7 linked regions of the Homo sapiens genome follow. The protein of the gene in region 2 interacts with the protein of the main gene of each other region in a biochemical or structural test. Each region holds a gene or a part of one and is shown on either strand. Other genes may lie near its edges.

What was found.
Region 1: the proteins of CDC42 (region 2) and BNIP2 form a complex in vitro, tested with the Homo sapiens proteins (2 studies listed by BioGRID, with this or other methods).
Region 3: the proteins of CDC42 (region 2) and NASP form a complex in vitro, tested with the Homo sapiens proteins (one large-scale study listed by BioGRID).
Region 4: the proteins of CDC42 (region 2) and STAU1 form a complex in vitro, tested with the Homo sapiens proteins (one large-scale study listed by BioGRID).
Region 5: the proteins of CDC42 (region 2) and FKBP3 form a complex in vitro, tested with the Homo sapiens proteins (one large-scale study listed by BioGRID).
Region 6: the proteins of CDC42 (region 2) and KHDRBS1 form a complex in vitro, tested with the Homo sapiens proteins (one large-scale study listed by BioGRID).
Region 7: the proteins of CDC42 (region 2) and FGD1 form a complex in vitro, tested with the Homo sapiens proteins (one study listed by BioGRID).

Annotation. Positions count from the first base shown.
Region 1 is NC_000015.10:59,675,821-59,679,320, forward strand, and holds part of BNIP2 (BCL2/adenovirus E1B 19 kDa protein-interacting protein 2), read right to left. Parts: intron 2,268-3,500; coding exon 2,091-2,267; intron 1-2,090.
Region 2 is NC_000001.11:22,097,709-22,101,860, forward strand, and holds the end of CDC42 (cell division control protein 42 homolog isoform 1 precursor), read left to right. Parts: 3' UTR 1-3,652; downstream 3,653-4,152. UniProt on the Homo sapiens protein: Plasma membrane-associated small GTPase which cycles between an active GTP-bound and an inactive GDP-bound state. In active state binds to a variety of effector proteins to regulate cellular responses. Involved in epithelial cell polarization processes.
Region 3 is NC_000001.11:45,615,041-45,617,216, reverse strand, and holds part of NASP (nuclear autoantigenic sperm protein), read right to left. Parts: coding exon 2,016-2,176; intron 1,913-2,015; coding exon 1,746-1,912; intron 881-1,745; coding exon 824-880; intron 592-823; coding exon 514-591; intron 1-513. UniProt on the Homo sapiens protein: Component of the histone chaperone network. Binds and stabilizes histone H3-H4 not bound to chromatin to maintain a soluble reservoir and modulate degradation by chaperone-mediated autophagy.
Region 4 is NC_000020.11:49,181,835-49,185,334, forward strand, and holds part of STAU1 (double-stranded RNA-binding protein Staufen homolog 1), read right to left. Parts: intron 1-3,500. UniProt on the Homo sapiens protein: Binds double-stranded RNA (regardless of the sequence) and tubulin.
Region 5 is NC_000014.9:45,120,982-45,124,481, forward strand, and holds part of FKBP3 (peptidyl-prolyl cis-trans isomerase FKBP3), read right to left. Parts: intron 640-3,500; coding exon 504-639; intron 1-503. UniProt on the Homo sapiens protein: FK506- and rapamycin-binding proteins (FKBPs) constitute a family of receptors for the two immunosuppressants which inhibit T-cell proliferation by arresting two distinct cytoplasmic signal transmission pathways. PPIases accelerate the folding of proteins.
Region 6 is NC_000001.11:32,016,868-32,020,367, forward strand, and holds part of KHDRBS1 (KH domain-containing, RNA-binding, signal transduction-associated protein 1), read left to right. Parts: intron 1-3,500. UniProt on the Homo sapiens protein: Recruited and tyrosine phosphorylated by several receptor systems, for example the T-cell, leptin and insulin receptors. Once phosphorylated, functions as an adapter protein in signal transduction cascades by binding to SH2 and SH3 domain-containing proteins.
Region 7 is NC_000023.11:54,448,095-54,451,234, forward strand, and holds part of FGD1 (FYVE, RhoGEF and PH domain-containing protein 1), read right to left. Parts: intron 2,208-3,140; coding exon 2,177-2,207; intron 1,667-2,176; coding exon 1,565-1,666; intron 1,175-1,564; coding exon 1,049-1,174; intron 874-1,048; coding exon 712-873; intron 1-711. UniProt on the Homo sapiens protein: Activates CDC42, a member of the Ras-like family of Rho- and Rac proteins, by exchanging bound GDP for free GTP. Plays a role in regulating the actin cytoskeleton and cell shape.

The sequences.
Region 1 (3,500 bases), on a different chromosome or scaffold from region 2:
GATGAATCTCAAAAACTTCATGCTGAAAAGTAAACAAAAGAGTGCATAGGATGATTTTAGTTACTATATATGAAATTCTAGAAGAGGCAAAACTAATCAGGGGGTAGATATGACAGTGGCTACCGAAGCTGAGTATTCATTGCACAGGGGTACTAAATAATTCTTCTGGGACAATGAAAATGTTCTACATTTTTAGGGGTATGGGTTTTATATATATGGGTATATATGGTTATATAGGCATTTGTCAAAACTCATTGAACTGCACACTTAAGATCAGAGCATTTCACTGTTTATAAATTAGGGAGACTGTTCAGTCCCAGTTTTGGGTAGCCTAGAGACAGTTTAAAAAATTTTTTAATTTTGAGACAGGGTCAAAAACCAAAACAAAACAAAAAACTAGAGTGCAGTGGGATGATCACGGCCACTGAAGCCTCATCTTCCCAAGCTCAAGCTCTCTCTCCTCCCACCCCAGCCTCCTAAGTAGCTGGGACTACAGGCATATGCCACCACTCCTGGCTAATTTTATTTATTTTTTTATTTTTTTTATTTTTTTGTGGAGACGAGGTCTATGTTGCCCAAGCTGGTCCTGAACTCCTGGGCTCAAGTAATCCTCCTGCCTCAGCCTCCCAAATTGCTGGGATTACAAACCTGAGCCACCGTGCCCAACCTGACAGTTTTCACTACAAATTCTTTTGTACTTTTTCAACTTACTGTATGCATATAATCATTTTTAAATGGTACTTTTATTCTTTTACTTTAAACCTGTCATGTTTCTAAAATGAATGAGAAATGCTTATTATTCTTTCAAAATTACATAATATCTCTAGGCAGAGTTTCTAAAAGTATTTAGAATTCTGATATTGCATGAAACGGCTAGGGCAGGCGAGCGCAGTGGAGTGCCGCGCGGTGCGGTGCGGGCGGCAGAGTTGGGGTGTCATGGAGGATGAGCGGAGCTTTTCGGATATCTGCGGTGGCCGCCTGGCCCTGCAGCGCCGCTACTACTTCCCTTCCTGCCGGGAATTCTGCCTCAGCTGCCCTGGGCTCTCGCTGCGTTCGCTCACCGCTGTCACCTGCACGGTGTGGCTGGCAGCCTACGGACTCTTCACCCTCTGCGAGAACAGCATGATCCTCTCTGCTGCCATCTTCATCACCCTCTTAGGTCTGCTTGGTTATCTCCATTTTGTGAAGATTGATCAGGAGACTGTTAATCATTGATTCCCTTGGCATTCAGATGACTTCATCTTATGCTTCAGGCTAAGAAAGCACTACCTTCATAGAAATGGGCAAGGTCAAGGATATTGTCATCAATGAGGCTATTTACATGCAGAAGGTGATTTACTACCTCTGCATCTTATTGAAGGATCCAGTGGAACCACATGGGATATCCCAAGTAGTACCCGTCTTCCAGAGTGCCAAGCCCCGGCTGGACTGCTTGACTGAAGTATACAGGAGCTGCCAGGGGATCCTGGCACACCAGAAAGCCACATCAACAAGCCCATGAGCCCCAGCGTTCAGAAGGCCAGCATCGTCTTCCATGGGAGATGACTCTTAAGCCATAAGGGTTGGTTTTCCGTACTCCAAACCATCAGGTGGACACAGTCCTAGGAACCATTATGGATATAGTGCATCTCAGAGCCATAGAGCAGGTGACTGGAAATCTAACTCAGTATATTTCCACGTATTATAGTGTTTTCCTTGTAAGGTTTTGCCTACTTTACCAAAGGAGGGGAGACCTTAAGAATTTTGACACAGTATGTCAAAAGTAATGTCAGCAAAGAACATTGGGAAATTGCTAAGCATGTTCAGGTTTACTTTGTTGATGTTTGTGAAGCAAAACAATGGGAAACTGACATCAGATGTCTTGAGAAAGCTATATTTTCCATTAGTGCCCCTTGTGTAAAGTTACAAAAAAAACAAGCCCTCCAGGAACTGGTTAGCAGGAAGAAATGTCCTACAAAAGACGAGTCTCTCAACCTAGCGCCTGTGTTCTGTACAGGGCTTATTTACTCTTAATAAACAGATATCCTTCCAAAAAAAAAAGAATTCTGATATTGCATTAAACAATCTGAAAAATCCTCAGTAACTCTTACCCCCATGGCTGATAACTTTTTTATAGGGTTCAATTGCCTTCATATCAACCCTGTGGTCCTGTTCTCCAATCCTGAACATACGCCAGCGTCGTCCATCTTCTTTTTCCTCTGCTGCTGTGTATTCAGTAATTGAGCCTTTCCTAATTACTTCAGTAGTCTTGGGTTTTGGAAGATCATCTGTCAAAATACAAAGTTTTTGAATCACAAATTGTTACACAACAAAAATCAAATTATACGTTAACCACTTTACTACCTAGATTTTACAGAGAATTTTCATTATACCATCTGCACAATTTTCAATCTCTCTTCCATAAAGGAGGAAAAGGCTTATTCTTAACATGAGGCTGTTTTATGTCTTTGGAAATCATGGTTCTTTAACTTTTATTGCCCAATTTAGCAAAAACCACCTAATCATAGTGAAACGTGTATCCACAAGTTCAGAAAATATAATTTGTAGAGTCATCAAAATCTTAGTACACTGGCCTTACAATGCCTTTCCAGATTCAACTTGTGACAATATTCTCCCTGGCAGTTATGACTATAGGTTACTTCAAGTAGCTATCTGGGAGCCAATTTTGTTGTTGTTGAGCACATAAATTAACTGTAATACCAGATAGGAAGTGGTTAACTACTCAATGATCACTTCTCATTTGATCAGTTTTATAAAGCAGAAATGTATTTATAATACTTTGAAGTATACATGCAGAAGTCTATTTAAATTAGCATTAGCCAAAGCATAAGCACCAATGATTAAGTGTAATTTATGTTTTGAGATTGCAGTTTAGCTGATTTTCAATGTAGTAATAATTTTCAAAATTTCAGTATTATAGTCCTTACCAAAAGATGGGGGGAGGGGGAAACCTACTGCATGTTAGTTGTTTCCAAGACAAAGCTGTTAACGGAAAATATCCTTCCAGGAAATGACTACAGCAGCATTAAAGAAAGAAGAGACAAAACACATAGGCACAAAACTATTTCAGTATCTTTACAAAGTATTGCTTACTACTGGACTGTTTATTGAACCAGTAAAACAGGGAAGAAAAAAGAAACCAAAAATATAGCATATCACACTTTATTACAGTAAAATACTGAATGCTAAACACTACTATGAAAACAAAATCATTTTCAAGATGGAAAAAAATATGTAAAAATTATAACAACTATATATAAGATACTGTAGACAATTTTGTAATTAAAGAAAGCATGCAAAGTAAAACAGCACAATTCCTTTGAATTACAAGTAATAAGGAATACTAGGTTCGGGGGCTAAAAGTATACATTAATTTAAGTTGGTCATTTCACAAAGTAGAGCAATGTCAGGCAAACCTACTTAAAAAGTCACCCCAAATGCCTCCTTTCAGAACTCCCTTCCCACAAACTGTTAACTATATGTCTCTTCAAAAGTTTCTT
Region 2 (4,152 bases):
CACTTGCCTCTTAGAGGCATATCCAGTGAGTCTTTAAAGCCCTACGTTATAGAAAAATGTGAAGTATGTCTAATAAAGGAGTACAGTGGAAGGTTTAAAAGCACATTGCTGATTAGTGGGGTCAGGATGGGAGGAGAGCCCTGATTTTAATGCAGTGTCATAGTCTCATAGGTGATTTCCCCAAAAGCAAATAAATGCTCGATGGATTTTGGGTCCACCATGCATCTCTGAAGTAGAAGTGACAGATTTTCAAGGCTAAGGTAAGTATAGCATTTTCTCAACCCTATTACAATAGAGCACAGGATCATAACTGTTCTGTTTGCTCTGATGCGTCCCGCAGAGCAGTGCTTTTTCTCGGTGTGAACTGTGGATCACTTGTCTCAGTCATCAGGATTCCTGGACCCTGTAGGATTTACTCTCAATCTTTAGGGGTAGAGACTAGGAGCCTACATTTTGAACAAGCATCTTTTTATTTTGATGAAGTTTGCATTATTACTCCTAACAACGTGCCCTTTGGCAGGTAGCTTCCACTTTTCTGGCCTCATTATCTGTAAAATTGCATACTTAGTTATCATTGAGGTCTCAAATGCAGTTCGGGTTCCTGGTTGGTGAACAATTAGATGGGAAGGCTGAAAAAAAAAATACTCCTGAGATTCTGAATCTGTAAGTATGCAATGGGACCTGAGAATCAATCTAATTTCTAAAAGATTCCCAGATAGAACTTTGTTGAGCTATGTTTAGGGACCAGTGCACACCTTGGTGATAGAACCTTTTTGAAACTTTGAAAAAGTTAAAAGGGTTCTGTGTAATGTTACCTAAGAAGCTTATTTTTAAAAAAGGAAAGCAGTGCTTAGGGCCATATTGTTTTGAAATAGGATCTGAGCACCATTTAAATTTTTATAAATTATTTTTTAGAGGCATCACTTCTTTAAAGCCCATCAGATTAATGTGCCATTGGTTTGAAAACCATGACATGAGATGATTTCTTAAGGTTTTATTTGTGTCAGACATGAATTTTAGAGTATTTCTGGGCTATAGGTCATTACAGCTTTACTTATTTATTTTTTGGAGACAGGGTCTCACTCTGTCACCCAGGCTGGAGTGCAGTGTCGTGGTCTTGGGTCACTGCATCCTTGACCTCCCCAGCTCAAGCGATCCTCCCGCCTCAGCCTCCCGAGTAGAAGGTACTACAGGTGTGTGACACCACGCCTGGCTCATTTTTGCATTTTGTGTAGAGAGGGGGTTTTGCCATTTTACCCAGGCTGGTCTCGAACTCCTGAGCTGATCCTCCCACCTCGGCCTCCCAACGTGCTGGGATTACAGGCATTAGCCACTGTGCCCAGCTGGGTATGGATTTCTGAGTGGAGGGAATGTGAACAAAGGAGGGCCCAGGCATGTTTGCAGAGTGGCTGGGGGCCCTGCTTCACCACGGCATAGGGACGGGTGCAGTAGGAAGAAAGGTAGCCTCAAGGCCCCCATAAATAAATTGGTGCATTAAGGAAGGAATATTAATCACATCCAGGAGGGCTCTGCCCTAACTGCTGAGAATCATAAAAGAAATGGGGACATATTCTGGCGAAATAACAGCTTTGTTAATTGAGCTCTTACTGTGTGCCTTTGCACTGTGTTAAGCACATGGTGTTATCACACTTGCTACTCACAACAGCTCTGAGGTTGATAGTACAGGTATCTTCTTTTTATGGAGCAGGACTCTGAGACATCATAATTGCTTGGTATATGCAGCCAGAGTTGGAAATCCTATCTGTCTGATTTTGGAAACTGTGTGCTTACCATTACATATCTTATGTGGAAATAAAATGTATATGATTAATTACAAAGCTGAAAATCGTAGTTGAAGCATCATATAGTGCACAGGGCAAGCAAAGCAGCATAAAAGGCTTCATCTGTAAGGGTAGGTTTGTTGGGTAGGAGCTTTTTGGGGGAGGTGACTTTAGGATCAGTTGTAGCATGAGAGAATATGACACCTTCTTCCTTTAGAGGATCTAAAGGTGTAGCTTTAGAGGATTGTAGGGTGCCTTTGCCCATTGTGTCATTTGGTCCTTCTTAAAATTTGAGTGTTTATTCTCTACATGGCACTCTTTTAAGCCTTTGTGTGAATTAACTCAGTCTTCTCAGCAATCCCCCATTTTTTCATATGTGGAAACTGAGGCATGTTATGATACAAAGCTTGTCCAAGAATTCAGAGCTAGCTTGTCCAAGAATTCAGAGCTAGTAAGTGAGGGAACTGGGATTTGAATTTAAGCAGTCTGTCTCTAGAGTCTGCTCAGCTGGCCTTTTTTTCTTTCTTCTTCTTCTTCTTCTTTTTTTTTTTTTTTGTATAATAGGCCTGTGAGTTGGGAAGAGCAGGGTTTGTTTGGTGAGAAAGTTGCACCTTAGTGAATACCCAAGGTCTGAGGGAGGCTTGGAGCCAGCTCTGCAACCTGGCTCCCTTCTTTCATTAGCTTGACCCAAGCACAGGGAGATGACTGGGGCTCTGCCTTCATCTTCTCTGCAAACGGTCAGGGATACTCATGCAGTTTTTGAGTTTAAGTAGTAAACTCCTAAACTTCAAGTCATGTTTGTATTAGTGATTTCACTTGACCTCAGTACAACTCTGTAAAAGAGGCAGGGATGGATGATGTCATTTGTCAAATGGTAAAACTGAGGCGAAACAACTTGGCATTGTTGGTGTTGTGCGAAGTACATGCATAGGCTTTGGATTTGAGTTTGGCTCTGCCACTAACTTGATCTATGTCTTCAGGCAAGTAACTTAAATGCTCTGAGTGTTGCATTCTCTGTGAAGTGGAAATAGCTGTACTTTGCCCAAGAGTTGTGAGAGTGACATGAATTGCTATATGTGAGGTTCTTAGCATAGTGCCTGGCAAGTAGAAGGTACTCATCTGTGAATGGGGTAGATAGCAGCTGTCTTCATCACTGTCATCATTGTTGGCTCACATCAAATCAGGACCAGAAAACCCTGTTGACTTCTGGGTCTTAAACTGCTGTATCAGTGAGGGGCTTCCTCCTCATACTCATTGCCAGGAGTAGAGTAAGGCTTTTAATTTCATCTCTAACCAACTCTGATAGGGCTGGAAATGTGTATGGAGTTCCAGACCCACCATGGGGCCCCAGTGCTAGCTTCTTAGCCCTCCTTTGTAAGGTTTGCACTAGTTTGATGGGAGAGGGATTTTTTTTGTCTTGATTCTGAAGCTCTTAAAGAAATGCTCCTTTTTCTCCATAACTTGAGGATTTCACAATTGTATTGGAATTATTGGTGTTAAGGAGTTAGGTCCATCTCTTGGCAGCTTGTGAAGGGTGGGCAGGCACCTGTGAATTCTTCACTGGCTTCTTGTAAGAATGACTTTACTGGAGGGTGCTGAGTTTGTGATTATCTCCTCTGCTGCTAGAAAACTCCGTGAACCCTGGTACATATAGCGTGATAAATCAAGTCCTGTTTTTGCTCCTAACTTGCATTATGGTGTTTGATACTATATCTTCATTTCTCCCATGGTAGTAATAACACTGTTGGAAAGAGCTCTCAGTTGGAAGTTGAAGATCCAGGTTCTAGTTGAGGCACCAGAGTTTCCTTGGGCAAGTTGCCATACCTTTTTGGGCCTTGGTTTCCTCATCTCAATAAAATGAGTTTCTGTTCCTTTTTGGTTTGTGTCTTTTTTTCAGTAGGCCTTCTTTTTCATAAACAAAAGCTTATATAGAGCCCCACTGTAGAAACAGAAAAGGTGTATGAAACAGAGTTGCTGTAGTTAATGCAGGCCCAGCAGCTTTACTCTTCCCACTGCCTCCTTGTTGCAAACAGAGATAAACTTTGTGCAGCCCTAGTAACCTCTAAGGTGTTGCCAAGGGATTTGAACACGACTGGTGCAGGTTCATTTCTGTAGCCTCTTAAGTTTCAGGATTTTTTGCTAGCTATTGACAGGTAGTTAACAAAAATCTATAAAACCTGTATACTAAATATACAAGTAGACTAGTGAGTCTTCAAGAATTTTGTGATTATTATCCCTATATGGAGAATCTTTTTAGATTTTTACTGATATAGTTGAGAGATTCTAAGTTTGGTTCAGTCTGTAGTTTTAAAAAAAATGTATAGCAGTAACCAGTAAAGACCGAGTTGGTTTTTGTTTATAGGATAAATAC
Region 3 (2,176 bases), about 24 Mb from region 2:
TGAATGGTAATCACTGTACAAGTTTGAATTCCTGTGTTTGAGTCAGGAAACAGAACAGGAGTTCAGAGTTCCCTGGCTGAGGGCAGTGGCTCACGCTTATAATCCCAGCACTTTGGGATGCCGAGGTGGGTGGATCACGAGGTCAGCAGTTCAAGACCAGCCTGGTCAGTATGGCAAAACCCAGTCTCTACTAAAAATACAAAAACTAGCCAGGCGTGGTGGCGGGCGCCTGTAATCCCAGCTACTTGGGAAGCTGAGGCAGGAGAATCACTTGAACCCGGGGGGCAGAGGTTTCAGTGAGCCGAGACTGCGCCACTGCACTCCAGCCTGGGTGACAGAGCAAGACTCCGTCTCAAAACAAAACAAAACACAACAGTCTCCACTCACAAATCCTTACCACCTTTGGAAAATAAGTGTCTTATATGCACCAACTATAGGGAGGGGTTTATAGGAAAGGGATTAAAAATGGAGTCTGAGGAAACGGTAGAAAAGAAACACCACATGTAGACTTACCTTCTTTCTGACAAGGTGGGAAATATCAGTCACACAATTTGATGAGGAAGCACCGTCTGTTGGCTTTCTACTGGCAATCTGGCAAAATAAGCCCTTATTAGCAATTGTACAAGCTATATGAGATCAATGCTGAGGCTTTTATAATTTTTTAGTTTTTCAGAGACAAGGTCTCACTATGTTGCCCAAGCTAGTGTTGAATTCCAAGCCTCAGGCAATCTTCCTGCCTTGGCCTCCCAAAATGCTGGGATTACAGGCATGAGCCAACACTGAGACTTAATGTAAGTGACCAAAAAACCACCTGAATACGCACCATGGAGACTGAAGAGCCTCCTCCACCAGGAGTGAAACCTGAAGTAGAACTCTCCACCTGCGAGAAATGACAAATCCAAATTAGTTTGAAGATAGAACCCAGGCCGCCCACAGCCTTGTAACAGGAACCCATCACCATCCAAACAACTGACTAAGACCTGAAATGCTAGTGGCCTCCATATAGTATCCAGTTCTACCCCTGGCCCACCTATGCCTGTCTAGCAGCCACCCAGAGCATAGTCTATACATAGAGTGTACATAATAAACTAAATCTTCTATATCCTACCTGCAGGGTAAAAAGGTCTGTGCCAAAAACAGAACCAGGCAATTTGTGGTGAATGCCTCTCAATGCCTCATTAATTTATGCAAATGAGTTCTTGGAGATGGAAATAGCAACTTACATTTTTTAAGAAATGTCTATTTTTCCAGTACTGTCAGAAGTATATTTTACACATATGTACTACAGGTCGGGCATCCCATCCCTTAATCCAACAATCTGAAACTTTTTGAGGACTGACTGACACTCAAAGGAAATGCTCTCTGGAGCATTTCAGATTTTAGATTAAGGGTATCCAACTGTTGAGTATGATGCAAATATTCCAAAATCCAAAAGCATTTGAAATGCAAAACACTTCTGGTCTCAAGCATTCAGGTAAGGATACTCAACCTGTATTATCCCCATTTTACAAATCGGTCAACTGAGGGAGAGAAAGGCCCATGGCCACACGTAAGTATGGAATTAAAACCCAGATAGTCTGGGGCTCCAGGGTATTTCCTCTTAACCACTGCATTACTTGATAGGAATAATTAGATGAGCCCACCAACTCCCTGGAAACCAAGTCATGATGAAAAGTTCCTGGCAAATAGAACATTAACATAAATGGTACCAAACATGCTATTATCAAAATGTTAACGGAACCAACCAGAGTAGCTTTCAGAGCCAGTTCAGCTACATTCCCACTACGCTGAGACTCCTTTGCATCTTCTATCTTCTCTCTAATTTCGGGTAGCAGTTCCTTTAGTTCCTCAATTTCTTTCTTGTATTCAGCAGACGATCCTTCAGCCTCCTTCACCTGCTCGTTTAGTACAGCTAAAAAGAATAAAGTGATTAGTAATGGCTCAAAAAAGAACTGTTTTCTTCCTTGTTAATTGCTGGATCCAACATCACCATGAAGCAGCTCGTCTTCACTCACCCATTCTGTTCTCAATGACTTCAATAGATTTGCTGAACTGTGCCACTGCCTCATCATACTGAGAGTTGTACCCATAAGCCAAGCCCAGCTGGTAGTGGGTCTCTGCAAGGAGACGGTCGTGGGCTTCCAGGTACTGTTCCTGCAGGTTAAGGCAGGACTGG
Region 4 (3,500 bases), on a different chromosome or scaffold from region 2:
CATGTTCATTCAGGGGAAAAGACCCCAATGTATTTAAATAGATTTTCTTAGCCTTTATTGTCTGGGAGACATGACACAAAATTTCTATCATAATAAAATGGCCAGTTTTGCTTCCATTACTGTTATAAACCCACATAGTCATCACACTTCTTTCCCAAATTAGATTCCAGATTAAACAGATGCCAGATGGGTTACAGATTTGATATTCAGAAGACTAATTTTTAATCGAAAGCAAACACTTTCTCAAATAGATTTTTCCACTTTTGCTTCCAGTAAATATACTTTGAGGGAGTTCCCTGAGTCTACTTCTTTAACAAATAAACATATGTAATCCCAGAAAATATACAGCAATTAACAGCCTGCAGAAATTTTTCTCTACTTCCATTTATCTGGTGACATAAATCACTGTTACATCAACCTTATTCACCAGTATGGGAATGTAAACACTTAAAAAACAAATTAAGCTATTTGCAGTAATTCCCATTTTACCACTTTAAAAATATTACTTTTCTCTGCAGTAAGGTTTTCTAGTTCAGAGCATTAAGCTGTCAACAAGACAGATATCCAAGCCCATCCATCCCGTGGCATTTGATAAGATCAACACAGCTATATATTTATAATCCTATTATCTCCTTAGCAGGTGAGAACAATGGATTTGGCCAACATTATTCAAGCTTCATAATACTGTATGGTAAAATGTTCATGACAAAGAGCAGAAGGTATGCCGGGCACAGTGGCTCACGCCTGTAATCCCAGCACTTCGGGAGGCCGAGGTGGGCGGATCACAAGGTCAGGAGATCGAGACCATTCTAGCTAACACGGTGAAACCCCATCTCTACTAAAAACACAAAAAAATTAGCCAGGCATGGTGGCGGGCACCTGTAGTCCCAGCTACTCGAGAGGCTGAGGCAGGAGAATGGCATGAACCCAGGAGGTGGAGCTTGCAGTGAGCCGAGATCACACCACTGCACTCCAGCCTGGGTAACAGAGCCAGACTCCGTCTCAAAAAAAAAAAAAAAAATAGTAGACGGTGTTCAGCACCATGAAACAGGGAGGCAAAAATAGAAAGTAGATGGTATCTAAAGAGATGTACAATAAAACTTCATAAACTTTGTTATATGTTTGAAATTTTTCATAATAAAATGGTGGGGGTAAATAACCATAGCAACTAACATGTCCTCTCATAGTTCAACTGATAACTGGCAATTTATATTTTTTGGAACAGCACAAATGGTATACAGCCTTGACTCTGGTGAAGTTTTATTTAAAGAAAAGCTCATGTAGAAAATTACACGAGAAGCATTTCAACCACAAATGTCTCCATCACCAGAAGTCAATGTAAAATAACCTGTTATAGGTCTAGTGTGAAACAAATCTGTCATAAAATTCTCTAAACATTTTTGAAAGCTCTAAAATCCCATTCTGAGAGAAAAGCAACTCCAAAGCTCTTATTTGAGAGGGGAGGAATTTATATTTCCTCAAATTGAACAATTCTGTGTCACTGGGTATCACATCAAATAAGAAGATCCAATTTAGAGGCTCATGAAAACAAGGCCTCTGCCTATAATCCCAGCTACTAAGGAGGCTGAGGTGGGAAGATGACTTGAGCTCAGGAGTTCAAGACCAGCCTGGGCGACAAACTCTGGGATTGACTTGTGGAATCCCACAAAAAGATACCCTTTTCATGAAAGTTTCATCTTTATACTGAATTACACTCTTACTCAATCCAGTAAAAAGGCTCAAAGAAAGTTGCCCCACAAACTGAGACTACCTTGTGGTATTGGGGAGAGAGACTGGATGAAGCAGTATCCATTTTGATAACACCCAGAATGATATCAATGATCTGGACTTTAGAATGGGGATGGAGGAGAGTTCCATGAGTCATGGCCATTTCTAAACTTAAAATACAGTAAATCCTCTCTTAACATAAGGGGTAGGTTCTTGGAAACTGAGACTTCCGACTAACACACGCTTATTGATACAAACAAGAGTTAGGTTCTAGGGCATATTTCTCATCAGAAAAATATCACCAAACTTTTAAATAAAGACCAAACACTTCGAATATTAAACACTGAAATAAATGTGAAGTATACATGCCTTTTTTTTTTTTTTGAGAAGTACTTTTGCTCTTGTTGCCCCGGCTGGAGTGCAATGGCACGATAACCGCTCACTGCAACCTCTGCTTCCCAGGTTCAAGCAACTCTCCTGCCTCAGCCTCCTGAGTAGCTGGGATTACAGGTGCCCGCCACCCAGCCCGGCTAATTTTTTTTATTTTTAGTAGAGACAGGGTTTCGCCATGCTGGCCAGGCTGGTCTCCAACTCCTGACCTCAGGTGATCTGCCCACCTCAGCCTCCAAAAGTGCTGGGATTACAGGCATGGGGTTGCAGTAAGCCGAGACTGCACCATTGCACTGCAGCCTGGGTGACAAGAGCTAAACTCCATCTCAAAAAAAAAAATTTTTTTTTTTACCACTTATTCCAGTTCAGGGTTGGGGTGGCTGGAGCCTATCTCAGCAGCTTAGGGTGCAAGGCCGGAACCAGTCCTGGACAGGACATCCACTGCAGAAAGCACTCACACTTACACACACAGCTCCACACACCAGTGAACCTCACGTGCACAGCTTTGGGATGTGGGAGGAAATCAAGAGTACCCAGAGAAAACCCATGCAGGGATAGGGAGAACGTGTAAACTCCACAGACAGTTTTTTTTCTCAACATTATCTTGAAACAACATTATTCAAGGACCTGCTGTAATCTGTATATACATGGACTTTCTGGCTGAAACCTAAAAGAGAGCAACTTATTCTCAAGAAACTATATTTATGGTAACAATTCTCAATGCTTAAAAGTTTTACGTTAAGCTTAATGGGAAGCACTACACATTTTTAAAAATGTGTTGTGTCCTTTCCCAGATACTAAATTGGCGTTTCTTTCCTAAATCAATTTTAAGAGGTGTATCTTTCCCCATCTTCCAGGTAGTCATAACTAAAACATAACATGTAACATTTCCACTGTACCTGATCAAGCTCAAAGTACACCTACAAAACTCAAATAACAGACCTAAAAGCTGAAAACTATTCACGACCAGAAATTTGAAAGTTATGCAACAAAGACATTTATAATATTTATAATATTCCTGTCAACTTCCATTGTAAGAGAGATCCTTTAGACACAAGAAAGAAAAACGTGAACACTTATGCTGTGATTTCATACTATTCACAAAAATTAAGGTTTCATTCATATTTGCTAAATTTGTTATTTGGAAATAGGGCAGACGGGGGCACTTTGGAAAACAATTCTATGTTAGAAGATTATCTTTTGCTTAATTCTTAACCTAAGGTAACAGCAGTATCTTTACACAACTACTGTAAAGAAACATTTTAAGTTTTCATTATGAATTATTAACTGTAGTTTAACTTTGACACAAAGTTATCTCTATTAAAGTGGGTTAAAAGGCAGGTCTCTGCCAAAACAGGACTGGGGAAATCTGTATTTGTTCG
Region 5 (3,500 bases), on a different chromosome or scaffold from region 2:
ATGATATACTCTAATTTATTATTAAGAAATTTCCATTGGAAATTATTAAATTCCAGTGGAAAAATATAGTGGTTTGATTTCAGAATTACAATACTATGTATTTTAAAAGAAGGAAAAAATTTACAAAGATCATCCATCAATAAAATTCTGGCTGTAAAAATAATTACATTCTTAACAAAGGGTAGAGGGGTAGGACCTATACTTATATCACAAAACAGCATACTATCCTGCCTTTTCTATTCAAATACTAATGCCTTACTTTGGGACATTAACCAGGTTTAGACTGAGATTCCTTATCTTTTGCTTTCCAAAGAACAAGAGGTCTTTAGCCAGCCAATAATCAGTGAACTGAAGACCTCTTCCAAGTAGATCTTGGGGGAAAGTATGTCTGGATGAAAGTAGGTGACAGTCAGGAAAAAGGTACTGCTAACTACTCATCTGTCTGCCACCCAAGTATTTAGAATCTCTTTAAGCCAAAAACATAAGATTCCATTTAGACTTACTTGTTTGAATATTAGTATCAAAAACAGTCCCATCTTGTAGTGTTCCTGTATACCAGCAGTGAACAACATCTCCCTTTTTGGGAAAGTTGGTTTTATCTCCCTTTTTCAGAACAGATTTAGTATATTTTGGTGGACCCTAAAAACAAAAAACAACACACACACACAGAGTTATTAATTTGTGTCCTTTAAAAGAATGACAAACAATAGCCAACAATGACCAAAGTCAGTTTAAAGAGTTTGATGGATTTGGTAATAAATAAACAAACAAAACCCTCAGTATCTAATTTCAAGGCTGTGATGTGACTATTAGTAACTTACACATCTATAATTTAATTTCAAATAACTTCCAGCTTCTTTGGAAGCCTAAATTCTTCTAATAAGATTCTGTTAATAATTCACCAAACCATAACATGATTTCAGTTATTTCCTAAAGTTAAAAAAAATCATTACTATTTAATTCCTATGAAATCATAAGGCATTAAAATAAGGGATGGTGACTTCCCCCCCACAAAGATTTGAACTGTTTTAGCAGCAATAATTGATATTACTAGGTGTTTTTATAATAACCAATTAGAATGAATACAGTGATATTGCCTCTGTCCCCGATTTGGAAAATAAATTCACACAATGGATGAAATTACCTAAAGAAATTGCTATAACAGGCATATTTCCTAGAACAAAGTAGGATTATCAGGGTCTTCTACAAAAAAGGTTACATATTAATCTAATCAATAGCAATTCATATATGAGAGGAAAGCAGACAGAGGAACTGTCAAGAATCTTAGGGAGTTAATTAAAAAAAAGAAGAAGTGTACCGAATTTAAAAGTATCCTTACCTAAATCTATTTGGTTTCTGAATTCAGACCAAATTCAGAGGGATCTGCATTATCCAAATCTATATTTGGTTTCTAAATTTCATAAAATAAATAACAAAGGTGTGCTTGGATATCCAATAATTCATATCTATTAGTTCCTGAGTTTGAAAAGCAAGAGAAAAGTGTTTTCTTTATTCCTGACCTATTTCTTTTTTTTTCTGAGATGGAGTCTCACTCTGTCGCCAGGCTGGAGTGCAGCGGTGTGATCTCGGCTCACTGCAACAACCTCTGCCTCCTGGGTTCAAGTGATTCTCCTGCCTCAGTCTCCCGAGTAGCTGGGACTACAGGCGCCTGCCACCACGCCCAGCTCATTTTTTGGATTTTTAGTAGAGACACGGTTTCACCATGTTGGCCAGGATGGTCTCGAACTCCAGACCTCGTGATCCGCCCGCCTCGGCCTCCCAAAGTGTTGGGATTACAAGTGTGAGCCACCGCGCCTGGCCTATTCCTGATCTATTTCTAATTGGTCAAGTTATGCAAATTTTTATTCACTTTCATTTCCCTAGCTGAAGGTTTTATCCTTTTCCAAAACTTGTAAGTAAAAATATCTGTGCTGGGTGCGGTGGCTCACACCTGTAATCTCAGCACTTTGGGAGGCCAAGGTGGGTGGATCACTTGAGGTCAAGAGTTTGAGATCAGCCTGGCCAACATGGTAAAACCCCATCTCTATTAAAAATACAAAAATTAGGTGGATGTGGTGGCGTGTGCCTGTAATCCCAGCTACTCGGGAGGTAGAGTCAGGAGAATCACTTGAATCCAGGAGGCGGAGGTTGCAGTGAGCCAAGATGGCACCACTGGGCGACAGAGCAAGGCTCCATCTAAAAAAAAAAAAAAAAAAGTCTGATCTCCTTGCAAATAGTCTACCTCTTGGGCAAAAGATTCTCTCCCTGACCAAACCCTAGCTAGGGTCCTCTGAGACCTCTTCTTCACAAGCCTTCAACCTTGGACTATAAAGATTTGAACAAACACAAGTTTCAAATAGCTCAAGGCCTTATTCCTAGGAGGACCTGATCCCTCCTTAAAGTGTCCGCCTAAGAAAACTTAAGGCTGCCAAAAAAAATTTACTGTTTGTTCCAGCCAACGCCTCAAGATGAAGATAGGACCCCTGTCTCTGTCTCTGTGGGAGCCTGATTTTGATAAGCGCCAGTTGGCAAACTCAGATGGGTTTCATATGGACCAACCCCACTTCCTACTTTATGTAATTTTTCACTTCTCTAACTCTGCTTAAATCCCTCTCTACTCCTTTTTTTTTTTTTTTTTTTTTTTTTTTTTTCAGATGGAGTCTTGCTGTGTCACCTAGGCTGGAGTGCAGTGGCATGATCTCGGCTCATTGCAAGCTCTGCCTCCCGGGTTCACGCCATTCTCCCGCCTCAGCCTCCCAAAGTAGCTGGGAGTACAGGCGCCCGCCACCACACCCAGCTAATTTTTGTTTGTATTTTTAGTAGAGACGGGGTTTCACCATGTTAGCCAGGATGGTCTCCATCTCCTGACCTCGTGATCTGCCCGCCTCGGCCTCCCAAAGTGCTGGGATTACAAGCGTGAGCCACCAGGCCCAGCCCCCTCATTCTTTTAAAAGGCCCAGTTACCCCTCCACAAATCAGACTGGAGTTTAGCTCTTTCCCCTACTGTCAGTAGGCTGAATAAAATCTGTTTTCACCACTTTAATGTCCGATTGTGTTTATCTCTGACACCTTGAGTCAGTCCTCTACTCAACTGCTAGAGTGATATTAACAATTACTGCTTATAGTTTTGTGTCCAAAGGCCTAAACCATGCAGGATCTTAATCTATCCCTCCCTGAAGTTCCAGAATTCTATCAGCCTTTGAACTCTTGTCTTTTCCATGACCTTCTCAGTAGAGCAGGTGCATACAGCATAGAAATCTTTCAATCAGCTGGGCGCAGTTACTCACACCTGTAAACCCAGCACTTTGGGAGGCCCAGAAGGGTTGATCACCTGAGGTCAGGAGTTCGGGACCAACCTGGCCAACATGGTGAAACCCTCATCTCTACTAAAAATACAAAAATTAGCTGGGCATGGTGGCAGGCGCCTGAAATCCCAGCTATTTAGGGGGCTGAAGCAGGAGAATCACTTGAATCCAGGAGGCAGAGGTTGCAGTGAGCCA
Region 6 (3,500 bases), 9.9 Mb from region 2:
TCTTCTATGCCTTGAAGAGTGCTGCACAGAGTGGCCTCTTATTAAATATTTCACGAAATAATACATATTCACCTTCATTGAAGATGGGACTGATGAAAAAATGATGACAGCCGTGCACGGTGGCTCACACCTATAATCCCAACACTTTGGGAGGCTGAGGCAGACGGATCACTTGAGGTCAGGAGTTCAAGACCAGCCTGGCCAACATGGTGAAACCCCGTCTCTACCAAAAATACAAAAATTAGCCGGGCGTGGTGGCACATGCCTGTAATCCCAGCTACTTGGGAGGCTGAGGCAGGAGAATCACTTGAAACCGGGAGTTGGAGGTTACAGTGAGCCCAGATTGCACCATTGCACTCCAGCCTGGGTGAAGAAGCAAGACTCCGTCTCAAAAAAAAAAAAAAGACAAAATTTTGAGGGATGTAGATTTTGAATGTAGACTTCTATGTTAGCCAGATTGATATTCAGCTGTGATGACTGTCGAATGTATCTGCAGACATAAGGATTCAATCATCCATCTTTGTTTTCTGGAAGAGAAATAATTTACCTTATTGTGTTAATATATTTATATACTAAGTAAAATGCTGTTGTATATATTCGAATGTGTCTGCAGACATAAGGATTCAATCATCTATCTTTGTTTTCTGGAAGAGAAATAATTTACCTTATTGTGTTAATATATTTATATAGTAAGTAAAATGCTGTTGTATAGATACCAGTGTTCTTTTTCTACTTTTTTTTTTTTTTTTTTTTTTTTGAGACGGAGTTGCACTTTTGTTGCCCAGGCTGGAGTGCAATGGCGCGATCTTGGCTCACCGCAACCTCCACCTCCCAGGTTCAAGCAATTCTCCTGCCTCAGCTTCCCTGGTAGCTGGGATTATAGGCATGTGCCACCACGCCCGGCTAATTTCGTATTTTTAGTAGAGACGGGGTTTCTCCATGTTGGTCAGGCTGGTCTCAAACTCCCGACCTCAGGTGATCCGCCTGCCTCGGCCTCCCAAAGTGCTGGAATTACAGGCATGAGCCACTGCGCCCGGCCTATTTTTCTACTTTCTACAATTAGGGAAATACAAGTTAGTATAAGTGACTCAAGAATAAACATTTTGAATAGATTAGCAATCTGCAAAAGATCTTGGAGAGATACTCAAAAATCCATCCTTCAAAAGCATACAGTGGAAAACATTTACAAAGTCTGTTGAAACTTCAAAATAGTTAATTCCTTTATTTACAGTATTCTCTAGAAATACATTAAGACCTTCCCAGTTCATTCTACAGGGCTAGCAAAACCTGCTTTTAAAACTGGAAAATAAGGGCCGGGCCTGGTGGCTCATGCCTGTAATCCCAGCACTTTGGGAGGCCGAGGCAGGCAAAGCACGAGGTCAGGAGTTCGAGACCAGCCTGGCCAACGTGGTGAAACCCTGTCTCTACTAAAAATACAAAAAATTACCCCTGGTGTGGTGGTGGGCGCCTGTAATCCCAGCTACTCAGGAGGCTAAGGCAGGAAGATCATTTGAACTCAGGAGACGGAGGTTGCAGTGAGCCAAGATCGCACCACTGCACTCCAGCCTGGGCGACAGTGTGAGACTCCGTCTCAAAAAAGCAAACAGGCCGGGTGCGGTGGCTCACGCCTGTAATCCCAGCACGTTGGGAGGCCGAGGCGGGTGGATCACGAGGTCAGGAGATCAAGACCATCCTGGCTAACACAGTGAAACCCCGTCTCTACTAAAAGATACAAAAAAATTAGCCGGGCGCAGTGGCGGGCGCCTGTAGTCCCAGCTACTGGGGAGGCTGAGGCAGGAGAATGGCGTGAACCCGGGAGGCGGAGTTTGCAGTGAGCCGAGATCGCGCCACTGCACTCCAGCCTGGGGGACAGAGTGAGACTCCGTCTCAAAAACAAACAAACAAACAAACTGGAGAGTAAGGCCAGGTGCGGTGGCCCATGCCTGTAATCCCAGCACTTTGGGATGCCAAGGCAGTCGGATCACTTGAGGTCAGAAGTTCGAGACCAGTCTGACCAACATGGTGAAACCCTGTCTCTACTAAAAATACAAAAGATAGCTGGGTGTGGTGGCACGTGCCTGTAATCCTAGCTACTCGGGAGCCTGTAATTCCAGCTACTCAGGAGGCTGAGGCAGGAGAATCACTTGAACCCAGGAGGTGGAGTTTGCAGTGAGCCGAGATTGCGCCGCCACTGCACTCCAGCCTGGGCGACAGAGCGAGACTCTGTCTTAAAAAACAAACAAACAAACAAAAAACCAGCAACACCTTTTCTAGGAATATGCTCAAAGAAACTTATACATGAGCACTTGATTCATGAAATGGTGTACCTTGTTCACAAAACATTGCAACTTGTTTCACCATTCATTGGATAATGTGATAGATTTACAACAGAAAATATTTGGCTGGGCACAGTTTCTCACGCCTGTAATCCCAGCATTTTGGGAGGCAGAGGCGGGTGGATTAACTGAGGTCAGGAGTTTAAGACCAGCCTGACCAACATGGTGAAACCCTGTCTTTACTAAAAATACAAAAATTAGTTGGGCGTGGTGGCAGGTGCCTGTAATGCCGGCTACTTGGAAGGCTGAGGCAGGAGAATTGCTGAAACCCGGGAGACAGAGGTTGCAGTGAGCTGAGATCTAGCCAACAAGTGAAACTCAATCTCAAAAAAAAACAAAAAGAAAGAAAGAAAGAAAAAGAAAATATTTGTACAGCAGTGAAAATGGATGAACTATAGCTGCAGGCAACAACATGGAGAAATCTCCAAAATCTAATGTTATATGAAGAAAGTACATCCCATAAGACTACATACAGTATAATACTATTTCTATAAAACAAAGCCTAGTAAGATAAAGCAGAATATCATTAAGTATACATTTATCTGTGATATTGCAGGTTTTGTTTTTTTGTTTGTTTGTTTGTTTTGAGATTGAGTCTCGCTCTGTCGCTCACGCTGGAGTGCAGTGGCGCGATCTTGGCTGACTGCTACCTCTACCTTTCGGTTTCAAGCAGTTCTCCTGCCTCAGCCTCCCGAGTAGGTGGGATTACAGGCGCCCACCACCATGCCCGGCTGATTTTTGTATTTTTAGTAGAGATGGGGTTTCACCGTGTTGGCCAGGCTGGTCTCAAATTCCTGACCATGATCCTCCCTCTTCAGCCTCCCAAAGTGCCTGTGTTACAGGTGTGAGCCACCATGCCCAGCCCAATGCAGGTTTTGTTTGTTTGTTTGTTTTTTGTTTTTTACAAAACTAAATGTGCTTATTGGCTGGGCATGGTGGCTCATGCCTGTAATCCCAGGACTTTGGGAGGCCAAGGTGAGAGGATTGCTTGAGCCCTAGTGAGAGCTTGTCTCTACAGAAAATTTAAAAATTAGCTGAGAATGGCGGCACACACCCATAGTCCCAACTACCCGGGAGCCTGAAGCAGAAGGATCACTTGAACCCAGGAGATTGGTCTTAGGCTGAGGTGGAAGAATCGCTTGAACCCAGGAGGTCGAGGCTGCC
Region 7 (3,140 bases), on a different chromosome or scaffold from region 2:
ACTTTTGGGTAGAAGGGATACGGTATTTTATTATTTTTTGTTTATATTGGTCTACTTATCCTACTTTGTAATAACAAAAGACAATTTTTAAATTTTTTTTTTTTTTTTGAGACGGAGTTTTGCTGTTGTTGCCCAGGCTGGAGTACAATGGCGCGATCTTGGCTCACCGCAACCTCTGCTTCCCAGGTTCAAGCGATTTGCCTGCCTCAGCCCTCCCAAGTAGCTGGGATTGCAGGCGTGCGCCACCATGCCTGGCTAATTTTGTGTTTTTAGTAGAGATGGGGTTTCTCCACATTGGTCAGGCTGGTCCTGAACTCCCGACCTCCGGTGATTCACCCGCCTCAGCCTCCCAAAGTGCTGGGATTACAGGCATGAGCCACTGTGCCCAGCCAATTTTTTAATTTTAAAAAAATCCAGTGCTGCCACTCATTTGCTGTGTAATTTGGGCAAATGACCCCTCTGGGCCTCAGTTTCCTCGTTTGTAAAATAAAGAGAACAATAGCATGGGCAGATTAGTTACTGTGGGGATTAAATGTCTAAGTACTTAAAGATGACTGTCTTTCATTCACTCTTGCCGTCATTTTATTCACTCCAAGCCTGGGTCCCTTGATCACTACTGTTTCCCAAATACTCGGGCCTCCTCAGTCTCACTGGGTAGAGTTGGAACCCATTTGCCCACTGTGGGAGAGTTAGTCAGGGGCTGGCTCTTACCTCCAGGATGGACCTCCGGCGCTGGGGTGTATGCTGGCTGCAGGCTGGACTGCTCCCAGGCACCCCGTGCAAGGCCACATAGCAATCAGTGCACACACGGTTGGAGCGGTTGTTGTCATAGACGAGGCGGGCCCGGAACTCGGAGCACTTCCCACAAACCACCTGGGGTGGCAAGTGGGCAAGAGTAGCCTGATTCCAGCGGGTCTTCCCTTCAGCATACCAACTCCCACAGCAGACTTGTGGCCTCCCCCCACTTGGAGGGTACCCACTCTGCAGTGGGCCTTTGGGCTGCCATTCTGTCCCCTCCCTAGCTCTGCCCCTGCCTCCCAACACTCACATGCCCGCAGGCCTTGCAGTGGTGCCTGCGTTTGGTGATAGAATTGAAGGGCTCCTGGCAGCGCATGCACATGGTGACTTCCTTTTCCCGGATGGGCGTAGGTGCCCGCTTCCCAAGATCCACGTTCTGTAGGGAGGGCCAGGTCTCAGGTCAGAGACAGCTACTCCCCAGCCCAGTCCAGCCAGCCCTTGTTCCTGCTCCAACGCTTGGATTATCATGGGGTGGGGATGGGCTGGGGGTAGGGGGAGCAGCCACATTCAGAAGACCTGCCTTTAAGTCCTGGCTCTGCTCCTAGCTGTGCTACTGAAGACAAGTCACTTCTATTATACTTTCTGGGCCTCAGTTTCCCCAATGATTTCTCTGTGGCCCTACCAATGGAAGACTGCTTCTGAAGTCATGCATTGCCTCTCTGGTCATTACCGTCTAGGAAAGGGAGAGGATCATCTAAAGGTCAGGTGGGCATTTGGAAGTCTGGAAGGGGTCCCAGTGCAGGGGAAAGAGGGCGGGGACTCTTACTGGAGAGTTGGGTGGGGTGTCTTCATCTTCCCTGTTTGTTGAGTTCAACAGTTTGAAAGTCTCCAGCGTCTGTTCATGCTTCAGGAGGGTGGAGTTGATGGCCTGGGGAGGAGGTGTAAGAAATGAGAAGTCAGATCACCCCACAAACTACCCATTTCTACCCTCGCCTCACCTTCGTATACCCTAGCCTGAAGTTAGAAAAGCTGGGTTTCAAACCCAGTTCTGTCACTGGTAGGTGGATGACTTTGAACAAATCCCCTCCCAAATCCAGGTCTCAGTGTTACAAGTGTAAAATGGGGGAGGGGGAGTGGTGGCTGAAAAACCTCAGGTGGCTTTCCTGGCCACCTTCTGGGCTTAAGATTTTACAGAGCTTGACACCCTCACCTTATACACCCTCAGAGAAACCAGCTTCCTAAAAGAAGAGTTTGTGAGTTTCTGCTCAACCTCTGCACCTCAGTTTGCTTATCTGTAAAATGGGGATAGTAAAGTTTGCTGAAAGACAGTTGTCCAGGACCATTCTGGTTAGCTGTGAGTTTTGAGGGAGAATCTATCAACCCCTAGGAGACCTGTTAATACTCTTCTAGCCCCCTACCACAGAGCCTTGGATGTTACCTGGACCCAGTCTTTCTTCTCCTCCTCAGTCCTTGGGGTGGGGAATAAAAAAGAAAGATGTTTGGTTAGGTAGGCCCACAAAAAGCAATAGGAGTGGAAGAGCAGGTGTTTTGGAGTCAGAAAGACCTGGGCTTGACCCTCTTCTTCACCTATTACTTATATGACCTTGGGCAAGTCACATAATCTGCCTGGGTTTATTTATTCAACGATTACTAATACTTTCCAGACCCTGTGCTAAGAACTTGAGCTTCAGAGAGGACCCTGCCCTCAAGGAGCTCATGGTCTAGTAGAGGAAATAGACAGGGACAATACAGGGAGATCAGTGTTTTGATGGTGAAAATAAGGCCAAGGAGCCCAGAGGAGGTGACATGCCCCAGTCTGAAGTTTGGGTGAGGACTTTTCAAGGAGGTGCTAGGCCTCAGGTAGAGGGGTAAGGGTGAAATGTGTGGGAGAGAATATAGAACATAAAAGAAACCGTGTCAATAATTATCAGTTGGCCGGGTGTGGGTGGCTCACACCTGTAATCCCAGCACTTTGAGAGGTCAAGGCGGGTGGATCACTTGAGGTCAGGAATTGGAGACCAGCCCGGCCAACATGGTGAAATTCTGTCTCTACTAAAAGTACAAAAATTAGCCGGGCGTGATGGCTCATGCCTGTAGTCCCAGCTACTCAGGGGGCTGAGGCATGAGAATCGCTTGAGCCCAGGAGGCGGAGGTTGCAGTGAGCGGAGATCGTCCCACTGCACTCCAGCCTGGGTGACAGAGTGAGACTCTGTCTCAAAAAGGAAAAAAAATTCTCTGTTGCTGGGTGTCAAGTTGAGAAAAGAGGGTAGTTTTTTTTTCATTTGTAAAATGGAGATAATGATTATCACTCTCTGGGTTCTCAGCAGTAACCGAGGTAACGTGTACAGTGCTCAGCACAATGTCTGGCACACTCGATGCTCAATCAGTGTGCGTTCCCCTTC